Homo sapiens: one gene and its partner. The protein of the gene in region 2 binds, or shares a complex with, the protein of the main gene of each other region. Each region holds a gene or a part of one and is shown on either strand. Other genes may lie near its edges.

Evidence for each region. The genes of interacting proteins can lie anywhere in the genome.
Region 1: the proteins of PLAAT3 (region 2) and KRAS are in contact, whole or in part, in a crystal structure (PDB 7C41), measured with the Homo sapiens proteins. Residues at the interface, in NP_001121675.1 of Homo sapiens: Leu65, Tyr66, Asp67, Val68, Ala69, Gly70, Ser71, Asp72, Lys73, Tyr74; in NP_001356715.1 of Homo sapiens: Ala11, Gly13, Lys16, Ser17, Tyr32, Asp33, Pro34, Thr35, Ile36, Thr58, Ala59, Gly60, Gln61, Asn85, Asn86, Lys88, Asp92, Tyr96, Lys117.

Annotation. Positions count from the first base shown.
Region 1 is NC_000012.12:25,249,023-25,252,622, forward strand, and holds the start of KRAS (GTPase KRas), read right to left. Parts: upstream 1,908-3,600; 5' UTR 1,729-1,907; intron 1-1,728. UniProt on the Homo sapiens protein: Ras proteins bind GDP/GTP and possess intrinsic GTPase activity. Plays an important role in the regulation of cell proliferation.
Region 2 is NC_000011.10:63,600,675-63,604,618, reverse strand, and holds part of PLAAT3 (phospholipase A and acyltransferase 3), read left to right. Parts: intron 1-3,944. UniProt on the Homo sapiens protein: Exhibits both phospholipase A1/2 and acyltransferase activities. Shows phospholipase A1 (PLA1) and A2 (PLA2) activity, catalyzing the calcium-independent release of fatty acids from the sn-1 or sn-2 position of glycerophospholipids.

The DNA of each region.
Region 1 (3,600 bases), on a different chromosome or scaffold from region 2:
CTTATTTGTAAAATGATTTCTATTATAAACATAACATATACATTGTATAACAATTAGAAAACCTGTCTGTTTTGATGGATCTCAAGATTTAAGAAGGCTTAGACTTCAGCTATAAGATGCACATGCCACTGTGGGAGGCCGAGGCGGGCAGATCACGAGGTCAGGAGTTCTAGACCAGCCTGACCAACATGGTGAAACCCCCGTCTCTACTAAAAATACAAAAAATTAGCCGGGCATGGCAGCAGACACCTGTAATCCCAGTTATTCGGGAGGCTGAGGCAGGAGAATTGCTTGAATGCAGGAGGCAGAGGTTGCAGTGAGCCGAGACGGCGCCACTGCACTCCAGCCTGGGCAACAGAGCAGATGGAGACCATCCTGACCAACATGATGAAACTCTGTCTCTACTAAAAATACAAAAATTAGCTGGGCATGGTGGCGTGCACCTACTAGTCCCAGCTACTCGGGAGGCTGAGGCAGGAGAATTGCTTGAACCCAGGAGGCGGAGGTTTCAGTGAGCCGATACCGCGCCATTGCACTCCAGCCTGGGCAACAGAGCGAGACTGTGTCTCAAAAAAAAAAAAAAAAAGGAGATGCACATGTTTAAGTCTATTTCAGGCGGTTAGCTGGTGGATTGCTACAATTCCTCTGTAAGTTTAAAAAATCATGTAAGTGCTGTTTTGGAGTACTGTAATAACTCTTGAGATGTAGAACACATCTGCAAAATGAGGGTAGTATAAAAGAGACGAGGGGATGAGGGTAATACATAAGAAATAGGGGAAAGGACAAGAACAGGTAAATTAAACTTCAAGTACTATTTTTGCTATTGCTGTCTACACTCAACTAGCAAGGAAAAAGCCTTGCTTCTGCTCTGCGGGTTTTCTTCGGGTTTAACTTGACCAAGCAAAACAGACCATCTGGGATTAACTTTTTCCTTTTCACTGTAGGTCACAGGCTCTACGTGTAGGGTGTTGGCCACCTGTTCTTCCACCATCTCTACCTCCACCTCCTCCTTTGTGGCCACAGCAATGTCACAGCCCATACATGGGGGAGGGGAGCATTCAGGAACTCGGAGGCAGATGCATTTTTTTCCAAACACAATAACCTCAAACAGTGGTCTCTAAGCACTTTCCTATGCTCTTCCAAAACGTGACCTCCCCTCTTACTCACACATCCCCTACACACGGAAAAGGACCACTATCCGTCCAGCCTGCGCTCGAGGGAGAAGTTTATACCTTCGTCCTAGAGATGCCAAATGCAGCAGGGAAGGCTGGACCGAGGCAGCCGAGTGCTGGAAAGGGAGGCAAGAGGTGCGGGAGCGGGGAGAGGGGGAGGGGAGGCCGGGGCGCCGCGGGAGTAACCTCCACCGCACCCCACCGCTCCGAGGGGCAGCCGGCCCGGCCCGAGTTTCTCCCCAGAAGCCTCCAGCCGCGGCTCTCGGGGAGGAGGAAGGAAGGGGTTCCCCGTCCAGGAAGCAGCACCAGCGGCGACCGCCTCCAGCCTCACCCTCCTCAGCCCCGCACCGCCCATTCCTCACTCCCCGCGCCGCCGCGTCCGCGCGCCTCCCCCCTGCAGACCCCTCTCACCCAGCCCGCCCCGACCCCGCGCCCGCGCCCCCCACCCGCCCCTCCGGGGACCCCTAATTCATTCACTCGCCGCCGGCCCCGCCCGGCGCCGGCAAAGAGGGTCGGGACCCGGGCAGGGGCCCAGGAGGGGTGGTCCGCTCCGTACCTCTCTCCCGCACCTGGGAGCCGCTGAGCCTCTGGCCCCGCCGCCGCCTTCAGTGCCTGCGCCGCGCTCGCTCCCAGTCCGAAATGGCGGGGGCCGGGAGTACTGGCCGAGCCGCCGCCACCTTCGCCGCCGCCACTGCCGCCGCCGCTGCTGCCTCCGCCGCCGCGGCCGCCGCCTAGGAAAATCGAGCTCCGAGCACACCGATGAGTTCGGGGCCGGGCGGCCGCAGAGGGCAGAGCTATCGATGCGTTCCGCGCTCGATTCTTCTTCAGACGGGCGTACGAGAGGGAGCGGCTGAGGGCGGTGTGGGAAGAGGGAAGAGGGGGAGGCAGCGAGCGCCGGCGGGGAGAAGGAGGGGGCCGGGCCGGGCCGGCGGGGGAGGAGCGGGGGCCGGGCCGGCGGAGGAAGGGGTGGCTGGGGCGGTCTAGGGTGGCGAGCCGGGCCGGCTGGAGAGCGGGTCTGGGCGGCGCCTTGGCGGGAGGAGGGACTGCCGGACCCACGCGGCGGCCCGCCCCCTGCCTAGCCGCAAGGCTGTCCCCGCAGCCGCCAATTCTGACCCGGAGCGGGACCGGACCGCGGCGGGCTGTGCGGATGCCACCAGGGAGACGCCGCGAGCGGCCACGCCGCCCCGCTGACCGGTCTCCACAGAGAAGCTGCGAAGAGCACCCCGCCACCCTCAGGGTCGGCCTATACTGGCGCGCATCCATTTACTATCATTGACTGCATGTAAATAAACAAGCAGTCACCAAAAGTGGGAGGCGACTTCGGGGACTTAGGGAGACCGGGCGGACGATTTCCCACACCGGGGCTGTCTGATCGCCGCCCCGATTATTATCAGCCTCAGCACTTGGGCTGGGAATTTAGCCCCAGGCCCAAACAAACACGACAGACCCTTTCAACGCTAATCTTCTCGGGTCAGGAGGCTTGTGATATTTTGCTATCTTTCTTGATATTTTGAACCCATCACAAGGTCTCTAAACAGGGACTTCGCTTATACCCAGGGCCCCTGAAATCACAAACAAAAGACAACTGTTTTTAAGTAGAGATGGCCTTGGTAGTTTAGACCTGAGGAGAGTCATTCAAACATTAATTAGAAGACAGATTAATCAGTTAAAGTTCGTGGAGTTAAGACATTAAACAATGGGGCAATTAAACATGCTAGCATACCCGGAGTCTGTGTTGATAAACTACCTAGAAATGTATCTTGGGAGAGTCTTGAGGATTGAGGGCTGGAAAAGCAGCGCCTGTACCTGATAGGATCGCCCCTCCTCCGAGACTTTCAGTTCCATTCCTCTAGTCCACATCATAAACCACCAATAAAGCTGAATTTAAATCCCAGCTATTATGTCTGTTAACCAAGGCTTTACATCAACTGTCATCCTTTCCTTTCTACTCTTACACGGGCTGTAATCTGCAAGGTTTATTCCAGTCTCCCCCTCCTAGCGCCAGGTGGAAGGGGCAGAAGAGAAAAGTGAAAGACAGGGAAGGGGAGAAAATGTGCCTACTCTATGTTAAGTACAAGCTAAATCTTTTGCACTTATCGTATCATCTTATTTAATCATCACGACAACCTTATGAGGTAAAATACTTTTTACCGTTTTACAAATGACGAAACAGATTTAGAGGTTAAAACGTTGGCACAAGTTCACATAGTTAAAAAATGGAGTATACTTCATGTCGGATCATAGTCACTCTACTCCCAGATCATCAGTGGCCCTCATTCCACTTGACATAAAAGCAAAATTCTTCTCAAAAATCCTACATGGCCTTAAATTATTTGATATCCCCTACCCTCTTCTCTGAACTCTCATCCTACTGTTCTCCCTTCCTTACTTACGTAGATAAACATTGGTTACTGGCTGTTCCTTGAAA
Region 2 (3,944 bases):
GCTAATTTTTGTATTTTTTGTAGAGACAGGGTTTCACCATGTTGGCCAGGCTGGTCTCAAACTCCTGACTTCAAGTGATCCACCTTCCTTGGCCTCCCAAAGTGCTGGGATTACAGGTGTGAGCCCCCGCGCCCGGCCTAGAATATAATTAAAAAGAAAATTAATACCTTCAATTGAGAGGCAGTTTCATGAGGTTTGGCAACAGACAATATCTACATTTCCCAACTTAAAAACTGCAAGTCCATCAACATGAGTATTTTTTCCCTTTAAATACTTTTTAACATTTTTATTGTCAAAGTAATTCATATTAATAAAATTCAAACAATAAAATAATATAACATGAAATATAAAAGTTCTGAATCCCAACCACGCACTGTTGCGTATGTAATATATAACAGCTTGGTTATTTTCCTTAGCTCATATGTAGTGTATAATACGTTTTCTGTATAAATGTATAAAAAAGTCTATTATATGTATATATATTATTGAAAAAGGCTGGAGTGCAGTGGCGTGATCTCAGCTCACTGCAACCTCCACCTCCCAGGTTCAAGTGATTCTCTTGCCTCAGCTTCTCGAGTGGCTGGGACTCCAGGCATGTGCCACTATGCCCAGCTAATTTTTGTATTTTCAGTACAGACAGGGTTTTGCCATGTTGGCCAGGCTGGTCTCAAACTCCTAACCCCAAGTGATCCACCCACCTTGGCCTCCCAAAGTGCTGGGATTACAGGCATGAGCCACTGTGCCCGGCCTAAAAATGTATTTTAAGCAACAATGGAATAATAATGTCTTTCAACTTGCTTTTCTCAATTAATATTTCCATGCCTGCTCATGTAAATTCACCTTACTCTCTCTAATATCTCTGTCTGTGTGTGTGTGTGTGTGTGTGTGTGTGTGTGTGTGTGTGTGTGTGTGTGTAGGATAATTTACTTAACTAGCCCTTTTTGATGGTTGTTAGGGTTTTTTTTTCTTTTCTTTTTTTTCCTTCAACTTTTATTTTAAGTTCCAGGGTACATGTGCAGGATGTGCAGGTTTGTCACAAAGGTAAAAGTGTGCCATGGTGGTTTGCTGCACAGATCAACCCCATTACCTGGGTATTAAGCCCGGCATCCAAGCTGTTTTTTTCAATGTGAATTTCAGAGACCAGAAATTGCTCCTCAGTTTGCTTGCTAAGGAAAATGGTTGCTATGCAGCTCTTGGTAACACTGCTTTTGTGGAAAGATAAAGGCTTTTTGTTCTGAAATCCCGTGGGTGCAGAGTCTCAACTCTGCCATTGTTGTTGCGTGAGCTGTGTGGGAGAGCCTTGGTCACTGTGTGGGCTGGGGTTCTCCTGAACTTTGCCATGGAGGAGGCAGTTCTCTTCTCAGGCACTCTGCTGGCCCTGACCTTGATCCTGGAACAGAGAACTACCTGACAAGGCAGTGCAGTAGCATTCCTGGAATCAATGTAGGTTCTTTTACAATAGGGGTTGGCAAACTTTTCCTGTAAATGGACAGATAGTAAACATTTTATTATTTTATTTATTTTTTGAGATAGAGTCTTGCTCTGTTGCCCAGGCTGGAGTGCAATGGCGTGATCTCAGCTCACTGCAACCTCCGCCTCTGGGTTCAAGCGATTCTCCCTGCCTCAGCCTCCTGAGTAGCTGGGACTACGGGAGCCTGCCAACAGGCGTGGCTAATTTTTGTATTTTTAGTAGAGACAGTGTTTCACCAAGTTGGCCAGGCTGATCTCGAACTCCTGACCTCAAGTGATCTGCCTGCCTTGGCCTCCCAAAGTTCTGGGATTACAGGCATGAGCCGCTGCGCCTGGCCATCATAGTAAGCATTTTAGATCTTGCAGGCTATATGGTCTCTGTCACAACTATTCAACCCTGCTGTTGTAGAGAGGAGCCAGGGTAGACACAATGTAAATGTATGAGCCTGGCGATGTTCCACTAAAGCATTATGGACACTGAAATTTGAATTTCATATAATTTTCATGTGTCACAAAATACTATTCCTCCTTTGACTTTTCCCCCAAGCATTAAAAAAAAAAAAGTACAAACCATTCTTAGCTTGCAGGCAGACCTCTTGCAGGCAGAGGTCCAAATTTGGCCCATGAACTGCAGTTTTCATACTTCTAAATTTAGAACATGAGTTTTTGGATTCTTAGTTTTGATTCAGCTGAGATGGGTGACGTGTATAATGATAAGTACTTGTTTTTCTAGGTGGATCTTAGTGGTAGAGGTGAATTATTCATATCTTCATTTCATAGCGCCCTGTCCTTGCTGGTCCCTACAAGACTCCCCTGTCTTCTGTGTTTATTTGTTCCCTTTAATCATCATTTTTTTTTTTTTTGAGACAGTTTCACTGTCACCCAGGCTGGAGGGCAGTGGTGCGATCTTGGCTCACTGCAACCTCCGCCTCCTGGGTTCAAGTGATTCTCCTGCCTCAGCCTCCCAAGTAGCTGGTATTACAGATGTGCACCACCACGCCTGGCTAATTTTTGTATTTTTAGTAGAGACGGGGGGTTTCACCATATTGGCCAGGCTCGTCTCAAACTTCTGACTTCACGTGATCTGCCTGCCTCGGCCTCCCAAAGTGCTGAGATTACAGGTATGAGCCACTGTGCCTGGCCTCCTTTTGTTTTTTTTTTTTTTTTTGAGACAGAGTTTCGCTCTTGTCACCCAGGCTGGAATGCAATGGTGCAATCTCTGCTCACTGCAACCCCCACCACCTCCTGGGTTCAAGCAATTCTCCAGCCTCAGCCTCTCGAGTAGCTGGGATTACTGGCGTACGCCACCACGTCTGGCTAATTTTTTTTATTTTTGGTAGAGGCAGGGCTTCACCATGTTGGCCAGCCTGGTCTTGAACTCCTGACCTCGGGTGATCCGCCCACCTTGGCCTCCCAAAGTGTTGGGATTACAGGCGTGAGCCACTGCATCCGGCCATGTATCTTTAATTTATATAAGTGGCATTTTGTTACAGAGCTCATCCCCATTTTTCCACTTCGCAGTGTCTTTTAAAGATATCCAACTTGCCAAGTGACCATCAAACCCTTGCTCCTAACTAGTGTGTAGGGCTCCATAGGTGAGCCCACTGTCTTTTACTTCATTTTCAAAAAGAAGTTGTCTTGAGTGAGATTATGTGTTGAGCTTGAGCGTAATTATGTGTTGAGCTTGGGAATATGTATCTCTTGCCCTTACAAAGAATAGGCAGATTGGCTGAATGTCAAAAAAAAAAAAAAATTACAGCTTTTTTCCCTTCTAAACTGTAAATAAATATTTAAAATTTATTTATTATTATTATTTTTTGAGATGGAGTCTCACTCTGTCACCCAGGCTGGCGGATCACAAGGTCAGGAGATCGCGACCATCATGGCTAACATGGTGAAACCCCATCTCTACTAAAAATACAAAAAAATAGCCGGATGTGGTGGCAGGCGCCTGTAGTCCCAGCTACTTGGGAGGCTGAGGTGGGAGAATGACATGAACCCGGGAAGCGGAGCTTGCAGTGAGCCGAGATCGTGCCACTGTACTCCAGCCTGGGTGACAGAGAGAGACTCTGCCTCAAAAAAAAAAAAAAAAATTTTTTTTTTTGTTTAATTTTTATTTATTTTTAAAATTTAGTTTCTTAAAAAAAATTAAGTTATAACTTACCCTTTCAGTGTTTACTTCTGTGAGTCTTAATAAACACATGTAATTGCAGAATGGTTGCCACATTCAGGATGTAGAAGAGTAGGCCGGGCGTGGTGGCTCACGCCTGTAATCCCAGAACTTTGGGAGGCTGAGACGGGTGGATCACCTGAGGTTGGGAGTTCAAGACCAGCCTGGCCAACATGGTGAAACCCCATCTCTACTAAAAATACAAAAAATTAGCCAGGCGTGGTGGCATACGCCTGTAGTCCCAGCTGCTTGGGAGGCTGAGGCAGGAGAATCGCTTGAACCCGGGAGGTGGAGGTTGCAGTGA